Homo sapiens: one gene and its partners. The protein of the gene in region 1 interacts with the protein of each later gene in a biochemical or structural test. Each region holds a gene or a part of one and is shown in the gene's direction. Other genes may lie near its edges. The genes, in order: BAG1, ST13 and BCL2.

Evidence for each region.
Region 2: the proteins of BAG1 (region 1) and ST13 interact in a biophysical measurement, tested with the Homo sapiens proteins (one study listed by IntAct).
Region 3: the proteins of BAG1 (region 1) and BCL2 form a complex in vitro, tested with the Homo sapiens proteins (one study listed by BioGRID).

What each region holds. Positions count from the first base shown.
Region 1 is NC_000009.12:33,261,599-33,268,719, reverse strand, and holds the start of BAG1 (BAG family molecular chaperone regulator 1), read left to right. Parts: upstream 1-4,011; 5' UTR 4,012-4,045; coding exon 4,046-4,496; intron 4,497-5,889; coding exon 5,890-6,018; intron 6,019-7,121. Other genes in the region: CHMP5 (charged multivesicular body protein 5), read right to left, coding at 821-867, 2,606-2,710, 3,573-3,641. UniProt on the Homo sapiens protein: Co-chaperone for HSP70 and HSC70 chaperone proteins. Acts as a nucleotide-exchange factor (NEF) promoting the release of ADP from the HSP70 and HSC70 proteins thereby triggering client/substrate protein release.
Region 2 is NC_000022.11:40,846,621-40,853,730, reverse strand, and holds part of ST13 (hsc70-interacting protein), read left to right. Parts: intron 1-2,850; coding exon 2,851-2,908; intron 2,909-5,361; coding exon 5,362-5,437; intron 5,438-7,110. UniProt on the Homo sapiens protein: One HIP oligomer binds the ATPase domains of at least two HSC70 molecules dependent on activation of the HSC70 ATPase by HSP40. Stabilizes the ADP state of HSC70 that has a high affinity for substrate protein.
Region 3 is NC_000018.10:63,127,766-63,134,875, reverse strand, and holds part of BCL2 (apoptosis regulator Bcl-2), read left to right. Parts: intron 1-6,116; coding exon 6,117-6,251; 3' UTR 6,252-7,110. UniProt on the Homo sapiens protein: Suppresses apoptosis in a variety of cell systems including factor-dependent lymphohematopoietic and neural cells. Regulates cell death by controlling the mitochondrial membrane permeability. Appears to function in a feedback loop system with caspases.

The sequences.
Region 1 (7,121 bases):
TTTTTATAACAAAAAAGGTTACTTAAAACTAGCAATGCCACCAATTAAGAAGGTAAATCATTTCACCACACCCTCACCAGTCTAGGCATTACAATTTCTTTTTCCAATTTGATCTAATCTAAAAGGAGGAAGATGGCATCTGGTATCTTATAAAAAGTCATTTTAATATAGGAAGAGAGACACTGACAATCTTTCTGGCTCCTCGATAGCTAATTATACCTGACCTCTATAACCCTGCAGAGGATCTCATCAGCTGAACAGTCTACAGAGGTAGGCACCAAAGATACTAGTTAGCTTCTGCTCAAAATTGGGACATAGTCACCTAAAACAAATTAAGGATCTTTAAATTTATTCTGGTGGGAGGGAACAAACATTTAGGATTCCTAACTTCACAAACAAAAACAAAAAAGGTACACTCTAAAATAAATAATAGGAAAACCAAACCCTACAGATCTGGTCAGTCCAAAACAGTAGTCACTAACCATATAAGGCTACTTAAATTATTTAAATTGAATAAAATTTAAACTTCATTTCCTTAGTCACACTAGCCACATTTCAAGTGCTCAATAGCCACATGTTGCTAATAGCTACTGTATTGAACACACAGATATAGAGCATCTCCATCATGGCAAAAAGTTCTATTTAGATGGAAGTTGTTACAACAGATAACAACCCAGCTAACTGTATTTAATTACACGTCAATGAAAATTTGTAATTAAATCAAGAGTGCTTAGAAAATAGTATGAAAACCTGAAGGAATGGAAGACCATTTCTCTTTTAGTTAAACCTGCTAGAGGTAGAAATTGTGTGTGTAACTTACATCCTCTTTTGCTTTAAAACTCGCAAGGCTTTCTGCTTGACCATATTCTGGAGAGAAAAACAGATTTAATAAAAATAAGGTGGAAAACACATATACGGTAAAAGAAATTTCCCATAGCCTCAAACTCACATGCCTACTTCCTCTCTTCTTCAAAGTAGTAGGCATAATGGCTCCTGGATTCTGTACTTCCCCTCCCAAAAACAGGTATCTCTAAGGTCCAGTCTTTAAGCCTTTGCTCCTATCTGTCTTTGCATCCCACATCCCAGAGTCCTCAACTACTTTCTCTTTTCCTAATGCATATTATCTCTGCCTCTAGCCCCAAAAGTGCTGAGTCTGTATATCCAGTTGCCTTAGGGAGATTCTTCACTTGTACAGCCCATCAACTTAACCTCAACAATTCCAAACTCCTGAACCTTATCTCACCTTTGAAATAAGTAACAATGGCCCACCAATCTCTCACCTCTCTAGGTTGAAAACCTTTTTATCAACCTTATCTTTCCTCTTTCTGTTGTTTCTTCATGCACAGTCATCCTGTTAGCTGATTTCAGAACTCACTTTCAAACTGATTCTTTGGTTTCCTACCACCATGGTTTGGGCTTTCATTGTCTCAAATCTAAATGGGCTTTCCTACCTCTGGTTGCTCTTCATTCCACACCATCCACTAAGATGGCTGGGAAAAGCCTTCCTTTTCTATAGAATTCTGTAGATCATTTTATTTGTCTTCTCCAGTGAGGAAGGAAAAACAGGTATTATTACTTCACAGATGATCATAACTCATATTTACTGAGTACTACTTTATCCTAGACATAGTGGTACACAGGTCACATCAATTACCTCATTTAATCCTCATACTGTAAGGTGGGTATTATCTCTGTTTTACAGATGGGGAAAGAGAGGTTCAGTGATACCCAGGCTCACATGGTTAATAAGTTATGGATCTGGAAAAAACAAGGTAGTTCTATATCCACAGTCCATGTGCTTAAACACAGTATTTTATGTTTCTACCTAACAGGAGTGGAAAATAAGTGACTTTATCAAGGTCACAACTAGAAGGCAGTGACAGTGTATTAGAACACTGGTCCCAGATGCCTAGTTCAGTTTTTCCCAGCAGGCCACTCCTTAAGCAGTCTAATATACCAACCTAACCTGACCAGCTTAGCAAGTCATTGATCTTGAGCACAGCCTAGTCTTCCTCTCCAGATTACCACCTTCTCAGTATAATATGCTAATTCTCATGTACATGCTTTTAGACGTGTGACCAGCATCTCTTTCCACCAGATCAATCCCCAGCCTCCCTTCCATATTTGATTGCAAACTCTCCTCCCTAAAGGATACACCCTCACATGTTTTCTCCTTACCAGACTGTAAGCATCTCTTCTGTAGGGATGCTCACAGCCCCTGCACTAGGTCCTATTTCACTTATTTTTTGAGACGGAGTCTCACACTGTCACTTGGGCTAGAGTGCTATGGTGTGGTCTCTGCTCACTGCAACCTCCGCCTCCCAGGTTCAAGCGATTCTCCTGCCTCAGCCTCCTGAGTAGCTGGGATTACAGGCGCCTGCCACCATGCCCAGCTAAGTTTTTGTATTTTCAGTAGAGACAGGGTTTCGCTATGTTGGCCAGGCTAGTCTCAAATGCCTGACCTCGTGATCCACCCGCCTCAGCCTCCCAAAGTGCTGGGATTACATGCATGAGCCACTGCGCCCAGCCGAACTAGGCCCTATTTCTATAGGTGCTAAAACTAGGCTCTGCCAGCACCTTGTGCAGCAGTTGCTGCCCACCTTACCTTTGCAGGACCCTCTCTCATCTTCTTGATCTGATCCTTATACTTCACTAGCTCAGCATCCAATCGAGAAATCTTCTTGTCAATGGATTCTGCTCTACTGTCCACCTTAGGGGAAAATATCAAATGCACTGGTAGTTACTGCAATACACTTATTCCAGAAGGGGCAGGTAGAGAGGAAGGAATACAGAGGAAGAAAAGAGGAGCTTAAGGGGAAGGGTGAAAAACAGTGGTTCACAAAGAAGGGTATTCCCAACCAGAAACCCTGGGCTTTATAAATTATTCTCTTACCCCCCGCCACACTGCCCCGATTCTGATATACCAGGTAGCCTTCAAGTGGGTTGGGGCAGAAAATAATTTGAGAATCACTGAGTTGAGTTGGAATTTCCCTAGAATCAGAGACTAGCCAGGCTGAGAGTTCCTCCAAGAGGCACATGAAATGGGCCAGTGCCAAGTGAAACCAGCTGATTGTAGATCTAATGCCATTCCCTAAATCGGGGATGGTGGCTTAATCTGAGGGGCTAGGGTTCTGAGTTTTGTGTTACTGAGATCCAGGACGAAGGCACAGATATGTTGACCTAGGATATCAAGCTGAGTCCTGATGTGGACTGGGGATGACAGATGGAAGAAGGGTAAGGGATCAGGCAGGATGAGGTGGGAAGGGTGTATGGGCCTAGGGCTGGGTGAGGTGAGAGGATCAAGGCGAGAGCGAGTGGACGGGCAATGGGCATCAAAACGGGTTGGGTGCTGGCAGGGCAAGGCAGTGATGGGGTTAGGGGTTCCCTGGTTTGTGGCGTTAGGAATGACTTGGGTAACAGGGATGAAGGGGAGAAGGTGAGATAGAGAGGGACGACGTGTAAGGGGCCCAGGACCCGAAATGAAGTGGAAGAATATGGGCCCGGGGCTGGGGGTGGGCGGGGTCGGGTGTGTCAGAGGTCCTGAGCCTACTTATGCATGATCAAATGCCCACCGTGCCAATGCAGTCAGTCAGGCTGGGCGGCGGAGCCTTGGGTTTCGCTTTCCCGAAGAGTCGGTTCATCTTGAGCAGCCGCGAAGAAACCCAAACACTAGAGCAAAACCAGAAACGGAAGCAGAGTCACTCCCGCCTCGACTTCCGGCCCCTCCGTGCGCAAGCGCAATATGCCTCCTGGCGTTTCCCGATTCTTTTTCCGGATTTTCAGCCGGGTCTTCCGGGGATGGAGAGCAAAAGGACTTGGTGCTCTCGGAGAGAGCCTGCAGGGGGCGGGGTGTTGGTAGAAGGAGTGGGAGGGGTTTTACTGTAGCAAGGCGGGGCCTCAGTTGAGTGGGTGGGGCCTGGAGGCAACTAACGCGGCATAGGGCGAGGGCGGGGCCGGCAGGCCGGGGCGGGGCTGGGAAGTAGTCGGGCGGGGTTGTGAGACGCCGCGCTCAGCTTCCATCGCTGGGCGGTCAACAAGTGCGGGCCTGGCTCAGCGCGGGGGGGCGCGGAGACCGCGAGGCGACCGGGAGCGGCTGGGTTCCCGGCTGCGCGCCCTTCGGCCAGGCCGGGAGCCGCGCCAGTCGGAGCCCCCGGCCCAGCGTGGTCCGCCTCCCTCTGGGCGTCCACCTGCCCGGAGTACTGCCAGCGGGCATGACCGACCCACCAGGGGCGCCGCCGCCGGCGCTCGCAGGCCGCGGATGAAGAAGAAAACCCGGCGCCGCTCGACCCGGAGCGAGGAGTTGACCCGGAGCGAGGAGTTGACCCTGAGTGAGGAAGCGACCTGGAGTGAAGAGGCGACCCAGAGTGAGGAGGCGACCCAGGGCGAAGAGATGAATCGGAGCCAGGAGGTGACCCGGGACGAGGAGTCGACCCGGAGCGAGGAGGTGACCAGGGAGGAAATGGCGGCAGCTGGGCTCACCGTGACTGTCACCCACAGTGAGTGTCGGGCGCCAGGTGGGCTCCATGCAGGTCCCGAAAGCCCGGCGGGGTCTGTGGGTTTAGTCACGTGTCCTCCAGAAGCGTGTGACCTTGCGCTTGTCCTGGCGTCCGGAAGCGTGGGTTATTGGTTGTGTCCGTGGAACTGTCTTTTGTCCCGGGCTTGTGTCTGTACACTTTTCCATGTGGCCGGTGTATTTTGTCTCTGGTCATTTGTGCGATCCTGGGTGTTTGAGCTTCTCCGTGCTTTACGTCGTGGGCCTGGTTGTGTTTGTGTGCCCGCGCAGTTATTGTGCCCTTTGTGTCAGGCATATATTGGGCCATGTGGTCTACGACTGCTCCGTGTGTGATAAGTCAGAACTTCGTGCATGCCGGGGTGCTCCTCGTGTGCTGAGTGCCTTCTCCGTGTGCGCCGCTTGAGTTGGCCGTGGGTCCAAGCGTTGTACTCTGGGCACCCTTTGGGTCTGCCTACTGTTGGAGTTGACACACCACCAAATGAAGTCAGTACACCGGAGAGCTGAGTCCATGAGGTTTCTCTAGAACCAGCTAGGGGAGGCCCAAGGGTCTGGGAATCTGGAGACCTGGATTCTAGATCCTGCGGTTTTGAGTGACCTTGGGATGGACGGCTTCTTCTAAGAATCCGGTTTCTCCTCTGTGAAGTAGATTTGGTAACCCTGGCTCCTGCTGACCTCACGGAGCTGTTGGGGGAACCAAACCTTGGTGTAATGTACTGTACACAGGCTCCCTCCTTGCTGTCCGCATCCCTGGAAAAGAATTGGCGTCTCTTCTTCAGAAAGAAAGGCTCTGCTGTTCGTATGCATTTGTCTGTTTACTTAGCACAAATCATGGATGCACTCAAGTGTGTTCAGTGGGAGAGACTTGGAGGAAAACAGTCACTTGCCCATTACAGCAAGCGAGACGAGACCAATACAATACAGGGTACAGGGCAGTCAAGCCACAGGAAGCAGATGGCTTGTGATGAAAAAGGTGGGCTTGGGAATCAGCTAGATCTGATATCAACTTCTGATTCCAACAGTTGAGTCTCCATAGGCAGTCCTTAACTTGCCTGAAGTCACAGTTTGCTCATCTGTGAAATAAGAAGTAATAGGTAGATCTACTTCGTGGGGTTTATCTGAGGATTAAATTAGATTATGCATGAAATGCTTAAAATGTTAGCAGATATCATTCATATTGTTAGTTATTATAATAGAGGAAACAGAGATACTTGAGGAGGTCACCAGAGGAAAGCTGGGTGGCATGGGGGCAGGCTCTGTGGAGTAGGTGGCATATGAGCTGGGCCTTGAAGGCTGGGTAAATAAATGTGATAAAGTGTCATCCTATATTGGTGTATGTGAAAGAATCATATTCGTCAAATGCTTTTCTTTCTCCCCAGGCAATGAGAAGCACGACCTTCATGTTACCTCCCAGCAGGGCAGCAGTGAACCAGTTGTCCAAGACCTGGCCCAGGTTGTTGAAGAGGTCATAGGGGTTCCACAGTCTTTTCAGAAACTCATATTTAAGGGTAAGCATTTCTTTTTCTTTCTTTCTTTTTCTTTTTTTTTTTTTGAGACGAAGTTTCACTCTTGTCGCCCAGGCTGGAGTGCAATGGCACGATCTAGGCTCACTGCAACCTCCGCCTCCCGGATTCAAGTGATTCTCCTGCCTCAGCCTCTCAAGTAGCTGGGATTACAGGTGCATACCACCATGCCCGGCTAATTTTTGTATTTTTAGTAGAGACAGGGTTTCACCATGTTGGCCAGGCTGGTCTCGAACTCCTGATCTCAGGTGATCCACCCGCCTCGGCCTCCCAAAGTGCTGGGATTACAGGTGTGAGCCACTGCACCTGGCCAAGGGTAAGCATTTCTTTTCCGGCTTTTCCTTATGGCCAAAGGACAGTTTTAAAACTGCTGAACTTTTCCTAATAGTCACTCTGTTTTCAAACTGGGACAATTTTTATTTATTTGTTTATTCATTCAGTTCTTCAACAGATATTTATTGAGGACCTGCTAGGTATTGGACACTCTCAAACACCTGGACAGGTGTCAGATTTGAAGTCTTATGATGATGGCAGAAATCTCACCATTTTCGATGAAGCTCATGGGCAGTCTTCCCTCGCTAGGTTAGATCATCTTCCCATTATATGTTACCATGGTACTCCCTGCTATTTTTGCATCACTTCTATGAAATTACTATTAAATAATCATTTTCTTAGTTGCTTAACATCTGATTTCTCTGTTAAAATAACAGCCTCCGTGAGGGTGGAGATACTGCTGTGTTTCCAGTGCCTCCCATTGTTCTGACTCAAAGGAGGTTTTGAGCAAACTTACCTGAGGCCTGGATGTGGCGGGCTCAGTGGATGCATGATGCTCATTTCTGCCAGGACCCACACCCTCCTGGCCCCTGCCCTCTGTCTTCCCACCCCCCTGAGAATCTATCATTCTGGTATCCACTGGGGAAAGACTTACCCCATTGGGTGTCAGTCATTATAAAGAATTTAGTAATAGGAGGCATTTTTATTTATATTTCATAGTGTAACATATTGTCTTTAATTTTTAAAAATATTTTATTTCTGAATTATAAAGACAATAGAAATTCATGTTTCAAAATAGAGGAATGCATGAAAAA
Region 2 (7,110 bases), on another chromosome or scaffold:
GAACAGAATGCATTTCTACCCTCAATATAGAATTTAGAGTGTAGCAACCAATTTTTTGTACATGTGTACAAATAACCATAGCACAAAGCAGATTAGAAGGTTATCAAATTAAGAGAAATGTGAATGAAGTTTTATGTGGTCCTATGTGAGAAAAGTCTCTACACTGGTCCTACTTGATTGTGTAACATAAAAAAGCCTGTAGTGCCAAAGTCTAAGTGGCAGTTTTTGGCCAGAAAGTAGCTTGTTCTAAGCCTTGGAAGCATTAATTGAAATTTCGTACCTATGAGTTGGTGTTTTCTTCCATTAGTTAACTAGAATTTGGGATGGGAGAAACTAAATCTAGCTTATGAGTAAATCCTCTTTTTTTTTTAAAGTTTTTATTTTTTTTGCAACAATTTCTAGCTCAGAAAAATTGCAGGTATGGTACAAAGGAATTTTTTCTGAACTAGTTGAGAGTAAGCTGCCAACATTATACCCCAACACCAGTGAGTGTGTACTTCCTACAAAGTCTTTACAATGCAAATACTAAACTTAGGAAACTAATGCTGATGCATTTATGCTATCTAATCCTCAGATTTATGTGTTGCATTTAGTTGCCATGTCACGTAGTCTCCATTCTGAAACAGTTCCTCAGTCTTTCCTTGACTTTCATGATCTTAACAGTTTGAATGTTATTGGCAAGTTATTTTATAGACTTTCAATTTGGGTTTGTCTGGCCTTCCCTTAGGATTGGATTTAGCTTAATACATTTCTTGGCAGGAATATCACTTCCCAAAGTTAGTGTACTGTAAGTTATACTATGTCTGGATGTCACTCTAAATACATTCCTGACGCTGCATTTTGAAACTTAGGAAGAACACAGTGTAAGAAACCCTGTGTCTTCATTAAAATTTAACTACAAAGGACTGGTGATTACTGTGCTCTTTTGCAAAGTAGTGTTTCCATAGAAAAGAATTTTGTGGTGTCTATATGCCTGTTCCTTATCATTAAATCATTTTACTTTGCTGAATTGCAGATTAGGATGTTTTGGATCATATAATCTTTATGTTTGACATGGGAGCTATTCCATATTAAGGGTACTGTGTAACATTTTCTTCTATCATATTAAACATAATGGAAAAAGTAGGCACATTTTCTTCGTTTGAATGGTGCTTATAAGAAATTCCAAATTCTGTTTCTTTTCATTCCATCTGCTACTTTGCATTTATACTTTTGCTTCATATTGGGATTCTCAGATGATACTAAGGGAGTGAAAAGGCAACCTACAGGGTGGGAGAAAATATTTGCAACACATAAAGCTGACAAAGGGTTCATATGCAGAATACAGACAACACCTTCAAATAAAGAAGGACAATCTATTAGAAAGCTGGATGAGAGTTGAACTGTACAAAAAAGTCTTTTTAAATGACCAGTAAATATATGAAAAGGGACTCAACTGCAATGAGATGCCAGTAGGCACCTATCAGAATGGCTAAAAAATCTTTAAGATGGACAATAGCTAAGCATTGGCCAAGGCGTGAAACAATTGGAATTCTCATACATTGCTGATAAAAGTGTAAATTGATAAAAGAACTTCAGAAAACTGATGCCCATTTAAATTCAGCCTGCACATACCCTTATGACCACAAATTCCACCCAACTGAAATGAATGTAAGTGTGGATATGACAACTCTAGTTACAAAGAATCAGGCCGGGCGCAGTGGTTCATGCCTGTAAATCCAGCACTTTGGGAGGCCAAGGCTGGCGGATTACGAGGTCAGGAGATCGAGACCGTTCTGGCTAACATGGTGAAACCCTGTCTCTACTAAAACAAAAAATCAGCTGGGTGTGATGGCATGCACCCTGTAGTCCCAGCTACTTGGGAGGCTGAGGCAGGAGAATCGCTTGAACCCAGGAGGTGGAGGTTGCAGTGAGCCAAGATTGTGCCACTGCACTCCAGCCTGGGTGACAGAGCAAGACTCCATCTCAAAAAAAAAAAAAAAGAACCCTTTCTGTTTTCAAAGTTAATATATCCCCTTGTTTTACATAGTTAATGGCTTTTGTTGTTTGTTTTTAAGGCAAATTTTAATAATGTCTACGTTGCTTCCAACTGTTGTGGAGTGCTCTTAAGTCTATCAACCATTTTAGTCACTGGATTGTTGCAGGTAGCCCATATACTATAGGGTCTGCACCAAATGGAGCATGTAACGCTAATTCTTTGTAATTTTTCTCTTCTAGTTATTTGCTTATAATGAATTGTGTTGCCCTGAACTATTTGGGAAAGAAGAGTTTGTAGGGTCAGGAGGAAGTATTAATGGATGAGGTTGGGAGGGGTGTATAAGGAGAAAATCTATAATGTGATGGGCATGCAAATATAAGCAAGAAAAATTCTCATAGGTCTCAGTCACAGGACACAAACATTTTGAATTATATCATGACGGTATAGTTACTTCATAAACTGCATATTTGAATTTAATTGAACTCTTATTTCAAGTTTCAAATTTAGGATTCAGATATACCTACTGAGTTGAATTCTAAGTTAACAGCTTGTGCAAATGATTTTGTCATTGCATGTTGACATATCTGCCTCTTTTCCTCTGGGAAGAGGCACAGAGAAGCTATACATTATGTTTATTTGACTCATTGAGGCAAAGAAAGGGGTTCATTAGCCAGTAGCCTTAAAATAAATTTTAAGCTGGAAAAAATTTAACCATAATAATACCACAGCATTCAGATTAATTGAGAGTTTACTTTTAAATTTTGAAAAGGTAGTCATCTAAATGTCTAACGTTATTTTTTAGGTGTAAATACGTTGCGTGACAGTGAATTTTAATTTTCTAAACAAATATCTTTTTTCTCATCTTCTTCAAGCATGGGTGGTAAAGTACCACCTGCTACTCAGAAAGCTAAATCAGAAGAAAATACCAAGGTAAGTTTTAATTTCATTTGTATGTTTTGTGATAAAGTACTATAAGATTTCTTAGGGGTTGTTTTTAAACTGCTGCTCTCCAGTTATCACTCCTGATTTCCCCAAGATCACTTGGAAATAAGACCTTTTAAGACCTCTTTATCTTTATAACTTTGTAGACCCGAATTCTCTGGATTCTGATTTAGAACTGAGAATTTAGGGTTGGATGTTCACTGTTTTAGAATACATGACAATAAAAGTTACATGTATGGCCTGTAAGTGGTAAGCTCCGTGATGGTGTGCATCCGTAGTCTTCATCATTGCCTTACAGTGTGTCATATGCATTGTAGGTACTTTATTTATTATTTGCAGAGTAAATGAAGTATCCCAGGTCAGTAATTTAATTTTTTTGCTCTACTACCTGAGTGATATTTGTGAGTGTGAATCATGGTGTTGGGTTAGCATATTTGCTTAAAGGACGTGTAAGATTAGGAGAAGGTTACCAGTAGCTGAAGTTGAGAGACAGATGAAGGGGAACATACATGTTTAAGAATGTTTTCTTTTATTTGTTTGTTTTTTCTTTCCTGAGACAAAGTCTCACTGTGTCACCCAGGTCTGAGTGCACTGGTACAATCTCGGCTCACTGCAACCTCAGCCTACTGGCTTCAAGCGATTCTCCTGTTTCAGTCTCCCGAGTATCTGGGATTACAGGTGCATCCCACCATGCCTGGCTAATTTTTCTATTTTTAGTAGAAATGGGGTTTCGCCATGTTGGCCAGGTGGGTCTCGAACTCCTGACCTCAACTGATCTCTCAGCCTCCCAAGGTGCTGGGACTAAGGCGTGAGCCACCATGCCTGGCCCAGAATGCTTTCTTCATAATTTTTTATTTCTCTCTTCTGCCTTCATATCTAAAAGGCTTTTTTTTTTTTTGCAAATTTTCTGATTAGCTGTCTTAAATCGACAAGAAAATAGCTGTTTTATTATTTAGAAACTTAAACATTGTTATCTATTTGGATCTTAAAGTGGAAGTTATGTCTATTAAGAAGGAGAATGCGAAAAGGTAAGCAAAAGCCCAAAAAGTAGTTACCTTTTTTTTAAAAGGACCATTTATCAGAGTGGTATTTTCTGAGCCCTAGATATTTTGCTATTTGGCAAATGTGTATGAAGGCAAAATTATATTTAACCTATGTGTCAGCTGAAAATTTTTTGTAAGAAAAACATTCTAAACTAGAATTATGGCTTGTCTTTTCTTTTCAATATATTCTAGAATACCTAGACTTTGCACATTTTATAGGGACTCAACAAATATTTTGTGACAAGGTAGGTTTTTGGTTCTAATTTTTTTTTTTTTTTTTTTTTTTTTGAGACAGAGTCTCACTCTGTTGCCCAGGCTGGAGTGCAGTGGTGCGATCTCTTGGCTCATTGCAAGCTCTGCCTCCCAGGTTCACGCCCTTCTCCTGCCTCAGCTTCCTGAGTAGCTGGGACTACAGGTGCCCACCACCACGTCCGGCTAATTTTTTTGTGTTTTTAGTGGAGAAGGGGTTTCACCATGTTAGCCAGGATGGTCTCAATCTCCTGACCTCGTGATCCACCCACCTCGGACTCCCAAAGTGCTGGAATTACAGGCATGAGCCACTGCGCCCTGCCTTGGTTCTAATTTTTTAAGTAACAGGGAAGCAACCTAAAAATGGTTAACAATATATGGTTGAGTGAATAGATGAAGGTAGGCTGATAATGGTATATAATTTACAAGATACACAGCGTTGTTAAATGCAAAAGGCAAAGGATAGAGTTGTTTCATATATAGAGAGACTATCCTGCAATGGGATATACAAGAAACCACACTGGTTATTTATAGGATGGGAAGAAAGTGTTGCTTTCTATATGTCGTGCACTTTTAAATTCTTTGAATTTTCATTGTTTATTATTGTAATTCCACAGGTTCTTATTTGCAGTTCCAAAACTCAAAAACCCTTGTAAAGATTTTTACTAAATTTGGCAATAAAATATAATGTGAGTGGACATGAGGCTATTTATAATCTCTAAACTGTTTATTGTCAATGTTCAAACTTTATTTTGAACAGTTGTTTTTTTATTTTTGAGACACAGTCTTGCTCTGTCGCCCAGGCTGGAGTGCAGTGGCATGATCTCAGCTCACTGCCACCTCCGCCTCCCAGGTTCAAGTGATTGTCCTGCCTCAGCCTCCCAAGTGGCTGGGATTACAAGCGGGCACCACCACGTCCGGCTAATTTGTATTTTTAGTAGAGATGGTTTCACCGTGTTGGCCAGGCTAGTCTTGAACTCCTAACCTCAAATGATCCACCCACCCCAGCCTCCCAAAGTGCTGGAATTCCAGGCATGAGCCGCCATGCCTGGCCATATTTGACAGTTTATACATAGATTTGTAGAAATTAGTATAAATATTCGGTATGTTATTAAATACTGATAGTACTGTTTGTCTTCCCTTTGCTAGGAAGAAAAACCTGATAGTAAGAAGGTGGAGGAAGACTTAAAGGCAGACGAACCATCAAGTGAGGAAAGTGATCTAGGTGAGGAGACGGTAGTTAGTTTGTATTTGAAAACCTATGATGTGATACTTTGTTGATTTTTATTAAAGTGACTTAAATCAGCACTGTGTAATAGAAATATAATGGCACATATGAAACTTAGAATGTTCTAGTAGTCACATTTTAGAAAGTAAAAGGAAACATGAAATAAATTCAGATATTAATGGCATATTGGTTGAAATATTGACATGTGTAATCAATATTTTTTTTTGTTTTTTTGTTCTTTTTGAGATGGAGTCGTGCTCTTGTCACCCAGACTGGAGTGCACTGGCACAATCTCGGCTCACTGCAACCTCCACCTCCCAGGTTTAAGCCATTCTCCTGCCTGAGCCTCCCGAGTAACTGGGATTAGAGGAACCTGCCACCACACTCGGCTAATTTTTATAATTTTAGTAAAGACGGGCTTTCACCATGTTGGCAAGGCTGGCCTCGAACTCCTGACCTCGTGATCCACCCACCTTGGCCTCCCAAAGTGCTGAGATTACAGGCGTGAGCCACTGCACCTGGCCTCAATATTTGTTAATAATTTATTTTGCTTCTTTTTTTAATAGCATTCAAACTCCAAAGGGTATTTTACACATGTGGCACCCCTCAATTCAGGTTTTACATTTTCATTGATAATAAATCAGACTTCATAATGTTTGTATTAGAAAAAGTTGGGTTACATATTAAAGTTGTTCTAAGCATACTTAAAAAGTTTTCTTTTTTTTTTTTTTTTTCTTTTTTTGAGACGGAGTCTCACTGTGTCGCCCAGGCTGGAGTGCAGCAGTGTGATCTCAGCTCACTGCAGCCTCCACCTCCCAGGTTCAATCAATTCTCATGCCTCAGCCTCCCTAGTAGCTGGGACTACAGGCGTGTGCCACCAGGCACGGCTAATTTTTGTATTTTTTTTTTTTTGTAGAGACAGGGTTTTGCCATGTTGCCATGTTGGTCAGGCTGGTCTTGAACTCCTGATCTCAGGTGATCCACCTGCCTTGGCCTCCAAAGTGTTTGGGATTACAGATGTGAGCCACCATGCCCAGCCAAAAGTTTTCCCATAACTGAATTGAGTGCCAAAAAATAGTATTTGTTTAGTTCTTACAACCATGTTGATAAAACTGGTTCATATTTAGAAGAGTAGTTATCTGTGCTATGAGTTTGGTTGGTTTTTTGGCCACAAATTGACTAAATTTCTTCATGAATTTGGAAGTCTCTTATATCACAGAACCTGAAGAAAAGTACTTGAAATGTTTTAAATTTTGAATCAGTTTTTTTTTGTTGTTTTTTTGGGGTTTTTTTGGAAGACTTGAGTTTCGCTCTGCCACCCAGGCTGGAGTGTGGTGGCACAGTTTCGGCTCACTGCAACCTCTCCCTCCTGGGTTCAAGCGAGTCTCCTGCCTCAGCCTCCTGAGTAGCTGGGACTACAGGCGTATGCCACCATGCCTGGCTAATTTTTTTGTATTTTCAGGAGAGACAGAGTTTCACCATGTTGGCCAGGCTGGTCTCAAACTCCTGACCTCGGGTGATCTGCCCGTCTTGGCCTCCCAGAGTTCTGGGATTACAGGTGTGAGCCACCACGCCTGGCCTGAATCAAATTATCTTTGATATCATTAGAGGTCTTACATTCTACTGGCAGTTGTTTGAGTGCTAAATTGAAGATCTTTTACTTTTTATAA
Region 3 (7,110 bases), on another chromosome or scaffold:
AAATAGAAAATATCAAAGTCATTCGATAGCTGTGTTTGATTTCCCATTGGCATGGTCTGATTTTCTTTTTACTTTCTTCTTACTGCCGATGAGACTCTGCAGTCTGCAGGAACAAAATGGCGGCACCCATTGATTTAGTTTAGTTCAAATGTGCACATAGAGGCATTACCTCTCTCTAGAGTGTAAGCTCTTTGGGGACAGGGTGGCTTTTCTCCCTTAGAATTCCCTTCGATTGTATAACGTCTGCATGCATAGTCAGCTCAAAGACTGTGGAATGTAGCTGAATTTCGAATTTGCTTATAGCCAGCCAAGCCATATTAAATTTCCCCAGTATATAGAGAGCTGAGAACACACACTGAGCTCGGGGCCTGAACCTCTTATTGCAGGCATTGGTCTGAGGGGCAGAGCTCATGAGAGTTCTTCTGGGCCAGGGTCTAAGGAGGCCCTCACTTAACCGGGGGCCTGTTGCATGGTTCTAGGTCATGGCTGCTGCCTGGGAGCCCATGTCTCCCCACTACTAGACATCATCTCCCAGCATTTTTGTCTGTCAAATTATGGAGTCTGGATTTTTTTCAGATTAAGTAAGCACTTAGAATGTAACATTATTCTATGTAGTATATATTGAAATATATTTCATAAATAGTAATATACATGTTTGTATTGAATTAGAAAAGACAGCTAAGGAAAAAAATCAGAATAGCCTCTTAAATGCCATGTCCTCATGCCTACTTCTGCCTTCAACGATAATCACTGTTAACATCTTTGCGTTTTCCTTTATATTATTTTTTTCTGTTTGTAAACGCGCACATGTATATGTTAGGTTTTTACAGAAGTGGAATCGTGTTTTGCTGACCGTTTTGTCCTGCTTTACTCAATATGACCTTAGGAACACAATTTCTTGCCAATAACTATAGGGTATGACTTTTAATGCTGAACAGCACTCCATCATGTGGACGCGCTGTCAGTCATCTATTTTCAGACATTTGTTTCCAGGTTTATGCTATTATACATAATCTGTGCACTTTATTATTTTTCCAAAATAAATAACTGGAAGTGAAATTACTAACAAAAGCTTTTTAAAAGCCTTTTGATATGCATTACCAAATTCAAAAGGTCTCCATGTTTACCTTTACCTGGGCATAAGGGTTATTTTGGGACCCCCGCCCATATCCCCAACCGCATGCCATTCTTTTCAGCACTTAGAATTAACCTTCTCTTCCATTCTTGACAATCTGACCTTTTTTAAAAAAAATTCTCATTTTAGGTTTACGTGAAATTTCTCGAAGTGGACCAGGGGTGGTGGCTCATGCCTGTAATCCCAGCACTTTGGGAGGCCAAGGTGGGAGGATCACTTGAGGCCAGGAGTTTGAATCCAGCCTGGCCAACATGAAACCCTTTCTCTACTAAAAATACAAAAATTAGCCGGGCGTAGTAGAGGGTACCTGTAGTCCCAGTTACACGGGAGGCTGAGGCAGAAGAATTGCTTGAACCTGGGAGCCACTGCACTCCAGCCTGAGTGACAGTGGCTCCATCTCAAAAAAAAAAAAAAAAAAAAATTCTTGAAGGTTCTGAACGGAAAAGGAAAATGTTGGAGGATGGCTGCCTCCCAGGTGGGAGTGCTCCATGGCCCGGAGGGGTGAGGACACCTTTGCTGAGTTTAGGAGTCTTGACCCTGGTCTGTTCCCGTCCACACCTACCTGGCCTGGTTCCAAACCTGCAGCAAGGCTGCGGCTGGGAGTTTAGCCATCCTGTCCCCTTGGGCCAGCCCTGGGTGGAACTCAGATCCTCTGTGGCCTCTGAATTGGAAATTTATGGGGAAGCCACTGTGGACAGAGCCACCAGAGCTGAGGCCCTGCCCATCTCCTCCTCATAGGAGGAGCCGGTGCCAGCCTTTCCGTGTGAACCTGTGATCCGTGAAGTCGGGTAAGCCCTTGCCAGTCCTGACATGAGCAAGGGACACAGAGCTTCCTAAATATATAGACTGGGATTTTGTCCGAATCACATGACGACCCAGGTTTTCTTTTTCCCTCTTTGTTGCTTTTAATACATAAAATGAGCATGTGTTTATTTAAAACAGCTTTCAAACTCAAACAAATAATGACAGACTGTTCAAACAGACTTCGGAAATCGCCCCAATCAGGATGTTTGAAAAATCAGGAAGACTTTCTACGAAAGAAGCTTTCAGGTCATTTTAGTCCCGAAGCCGCAGGGTCTCCTTTGCACTTTGGAATTGTAGAAGGGCAAAGTTTAGAGGCCAGCTCCAACCTCCAGGGGGTTAAATGACTTGCCCTCTAGCCCTACACTCTAATAATGTGTAAAGAAGGACAGATAGGTAGGCATTGTATTATCACTTCCCATCTTTGACCAGAACACGGGATGTATACATTTTAATTCATAATTCCTATAGAAATTACGGACTATCCTCAGATCAGAAAGCTAAGAGAGGAAATTGCTTCTGCAAAACGGCAGGCTCAGCAGAACTTCTTGGGGGAAGGGCAGGTTGAGTAGGTGCGGAGCAGGTCTGCAAGAGGACAGACAAGAGCAAGGTGTTTGTTCTGCCACGAGCTCACTTTCTGTATCCAATTTACAAATGGCTTTGAGTGACCTACGTTAATCTTCACAATAATGAATTTTATGGCTATGGATGAAGTAAATGAGGCTCGGGGCTGGGTTATCTGCTGAAGGTTATAAACTAATAAAATATCAAAGCCAGGGTTCACCCACACTCCTCCTCCAAGTCCCATGCCCTTCTCAGCCCCCTGGGATGGCAACAGCATCTCTATGCTGAGGCTTTGGGCCAAGAGCTGCTAGTTTAGCTCATCTCACTCTAGAAATGACATTGTTCTACGTAATGCATATCAGAAATGGCCTGTTAGGTTCATGAGAAGCACTGTTATTTGTGTGGGGGTGAGGGTGGTGAGAGGGAATTATTCCAGCTCTGAGGAGGTGGGGATATTTGGGACAGCATTTCTTCTGCTCTCCAGCACTGTGTGCCAGACCAACTGGGAGAAAATGCCAGCTGGAGTATGTCCCTGCATCCTCCGGTTTCCCAGGATGGCTTCAGGTCCAGACAGGACAAATGATCAGGGGCTTAGTCTGGTTCAGATTTTGCCACACAAAACTCTGTTGATTACTAAAGGGATTCAGAGCCCGGCCACTGACCTTCTCAATGTCAAGCCAAATTGCAGACAACCTATTGCCAGTGCCCTGACAAATTTGGGGTGTCTTTTGGCTGGGCTATTGGGGGTTTCAGCCTACCCATCCCTCAGAGAGAGAAGCATGGATGGGAGGACTAGTTGACATTTGCAGCCGTGTCTGTGATGTCTTGGGTTGCTCCCTGGAAGAGGCAGAGTTCTGGCTTGTGGAGAAGTCCTGACTCCTTCCTGCCCCACTGATCCCTGCTTATATGGAGAGGGGTGTGCATCTTGGCAGACAATCATGATTGTGCCTTAGCTCTGTGCTAAGAGCACTAAACACACATTTTATGTACGTCTATTGCCTCGCTTTTCTAACACTGAAATTTAGAAATGTTTAACAATAGATATTTAAAAAGAAGAAGAAAGCCCTTGCGCCCTCTCCTGGTAAAAGTTAACCAAGGACCTCCAAAGATGCAGAAGGCCCACTGGGTTAGCAGTCGCTGGTCTGGGCTAGCTGATTGTGCTGATTTGACCAATGCTGTTGACACACAGGATGGGTCATCTGTTCTTCTATGGTCTGTGATTACAGAGCATCTTATAAACCAGAGTTTCTCAGCCTCGGCCCTGTTAGCATTGGGGGGCTGCCCTGTGCATTGTGGGATGTTGAACAGCATCCGCGGCCTCTGCCCACTAGATACCAGTAGCACCCTCACCCCAAATCATGACCACTAAAAATGCTTCCAAACATTGCCAAATGTCCCCTGGGGGACAGGATCACTCTCAGTGTGACCCTCGCCCTAAATTCTTGCCTGCCTTTTGTAAAAGGTGGCATTGGTTGGAGGGCAATCCATGAGAATGTGAGGATGGCTCAAGGCAAGCCCTTCATGATGTCTGGAAGCAATATTGATGACTGGTTAACTGAGGTCACTTCTAGGAGTTTGTTTCAAAAAAGCAACTGAACAAATAGACAAGAATTTATATACAAAAATATATCATGATATTGTTTATAATAGCAAAAGTTTTAAACACTATAAACATGAATTTTTTAAAGTATGGCACATTTTATATATCATGAAAATAATTGTATAAATCTATATTTAATAATGTGGAAAGTTACCCTAACAATGCTTTAAATCCTCATCAAGACTACCTCAGGATTCTCAGAGGCTGTTACATATAGAAGGAGTAATTTCAAACAGATTCATAAGCATTTGGGTAAAGCATTAAGCCAAAGACCAATGATTGTATTCAGAAAGCTTAAGTGAACAAACATTTACTACGCACCTATAGTGCACCACAACCATGCCCAGCATGAGGGAGACAAAGAGAATCCCTGGTCCCACTGCTACAGCCCTTGCCCCAGAGAAAGGGAACCCCTCTGTGCACTGTTGGAGCCCCTCCCAACAGCGATGTCCAGGGTCATGGTATGTTACTGTTTCCTGTAATAAAACTGTGTGCTTTGAGTCAGGGTTGTTGGGAATAATGTGAAACTATTCTTGTTTTCTTCTTCATCCTGAATAAATCAGAAGTAAAAAGAATTCATTTACTGATTTATATATTCAAATATTCATTCAGAAAGTTGTCCAAATACTCATTGGACCCAAATGTGAAACATAATCTCCCCAAAATCTAGGAAATGAGCAATTGGTGATTTGCTCAATCCAAGCCCATCCAGAGGGTAGACTTTGCTACAACACACTACAGACCCGACTTGAGATGGAGAGATAGGAATGGAAGGGAGACACTTTTTGTCTCTCAGGGACCTGCACATCCAGTGACACACCCCTGATCTCCTGCCTTGTGAGATCCACAATTTGAGTAAATGCAGAGTTGTGGTCGTCCAGTCTAGCCACCCCCAAGAGAAACCCCCTGACAGCTCCCTTTCCCCAGGAGAACCTTGACCTTAGAGGTTGGCACTGCACCAGTCAAGGCCGCCCTTGGCCCCTCCACTGACTGAGCCCTTGACTGACCAAATGCTCTCATAGAGCTGCCGTTAGCCACGCCAGGGCATCAGCAGAGAGAAGGGTGCTGGTTTCTATCTGGGTTCAAAGCCTGGCTCTGCCACTTGTTAAAAAGTCTCTTATTCCCTGCGATTCTCAGCTTTTTCATCTTCAGAACAGAAACAAATAAAATAACTTCATAAGATTGGTACAAAGAATTAGCTGGATGAGAAAGCGCATGCCTTTAATCCCAGAACTTTGGGAGGCTGAGGCAGGAGACTCACTTGAGCCCAGGAGTTCAAGACCAGCCTGGAAAGTATAGTAAGACCCTATCTCTACAAAAAATTTAAAAATTAGCCAAGCATGGTAATCCTAGGTACTCAGGAGGCGGAGGCAGGAGGATCACTCTTGAGTCCAACAGTTCGAGGCTGCAGTGGGTCATGATTGCACCACTGCACTGCAGCCTGGGCAACAGAGCAAGACTCTTGTCTCTAAAAAAAAAAAAAGAAAGAAAAAGTTTGGTACAAAGACTAAAATAATGCATGTCAGACATTTGATAAGATGTCAACACTCAATCGAGGAGTGTGACGGTCATCATCATTGCTAGATTTTATTACTTTTATGGATGGGCATGCTAGCTAAAATTGCAAAACCTCTAATATTTTCTAACTGCCTCTGCTGTTTTTCTCCTCGGCCCTTAGCACTCTCTCCTACACCATGTGATAATTTATATTGATTGCTGTCTATACTGTTCCACTCAATGGAAGCTTCGTGAAGTAGGAACTTTTAGTCTATTTTATGCACTGCTGTATCTCTAAGATGGCTGGCACGTAAAGAGGGTCTCAATAAATATGCCTTGAATTAATGAAAACAGTGGTTTCTGAATCATGGCCTCCAAAGAGCATTTGCCTTTTCCCCTCTCACCCTTCTGAAGGTGCCCAGGCTGCCCTGGCAGGATGCCTCTTTCTCTGTGGGGTGGCATTCTCTGCTCTCTCTCTAATACTCTTTCTTTTTCTTCCCTCCTCTCCCCCAACTGCAGGATGCCTTTGTGGAACTGTACGGCCCCAGCATGCGGCCTCTGTTTGATTTCTCCTGGCTGTCTCTGAAGACTCTGCTCAGTTTGGCCCTGGTGGGAGCTTGCATCACCCTGGGTGCCTATCTGGGCCACAAGTGAAGTCAACATGCCTGCCCCAAACAAATATGCAAAAGGTTCACTAAAGCAGTAGAAATAATATGCATTGTCAGTGATGTACCATGAAACAAAGCTGCAGGCTGTTTAAGAAAAAATAACACACATATAAACATCACACACACAGACAGACACACACACACACAACAATTAACAGTCTTCAGGCAAAACGTCGAATCAGCTATTTACTGCCAAAGGGAAATATCATTTATTTTTTACATTATTAAGAAAAAAAGATTTATTTATTTAAGACAGTCCCATCAAAACTCCTGTCTTTGGAAATCCGACCACTAATTGCCAAGCACCGCTTCGTGTGGCTCCACCTGGATGTTCTGTGCCTGTAAACATAGATTCGCTTTCCATGTTGTTGGCCGGATCACCATCTGAAGAGCAGACGGATGGAAAAAGGACCTGATCATTGGGGAAGCTGGCTTTCTGGCTGCTGGAGGCTGGGGAGAAGGTGTTCATTCACTTGCATTTCTTTGCCCTGGGGGCTGTGATATTAACAGAGGGAGGGTTCCTGTGGGGGGAAGTCCATGCCTCCCTGGCCTGAAGAAGAGACTCTTTGCATATGACTCACATGATGCATACCTGGTGGGAGGAAAAGAGTTGGGAACTTCAGATGGACCTAGTACCCACTGAGATTTCCACGCCGAAGGACAGCGATGGGAAAAATGCCCTTAAATCATAGGAAAGTATTTTTTTAAGCTACCAATTGTGCCGAGAAAAGCATTTTAGCAATTTATACAATATCATCCAGTACCTTAAGCCCTGATTGTGTATATTCATATATTTTGGATACGCACCCCCCAACTCCCAATACTGGCTCTGTCTGAGTAAGAAA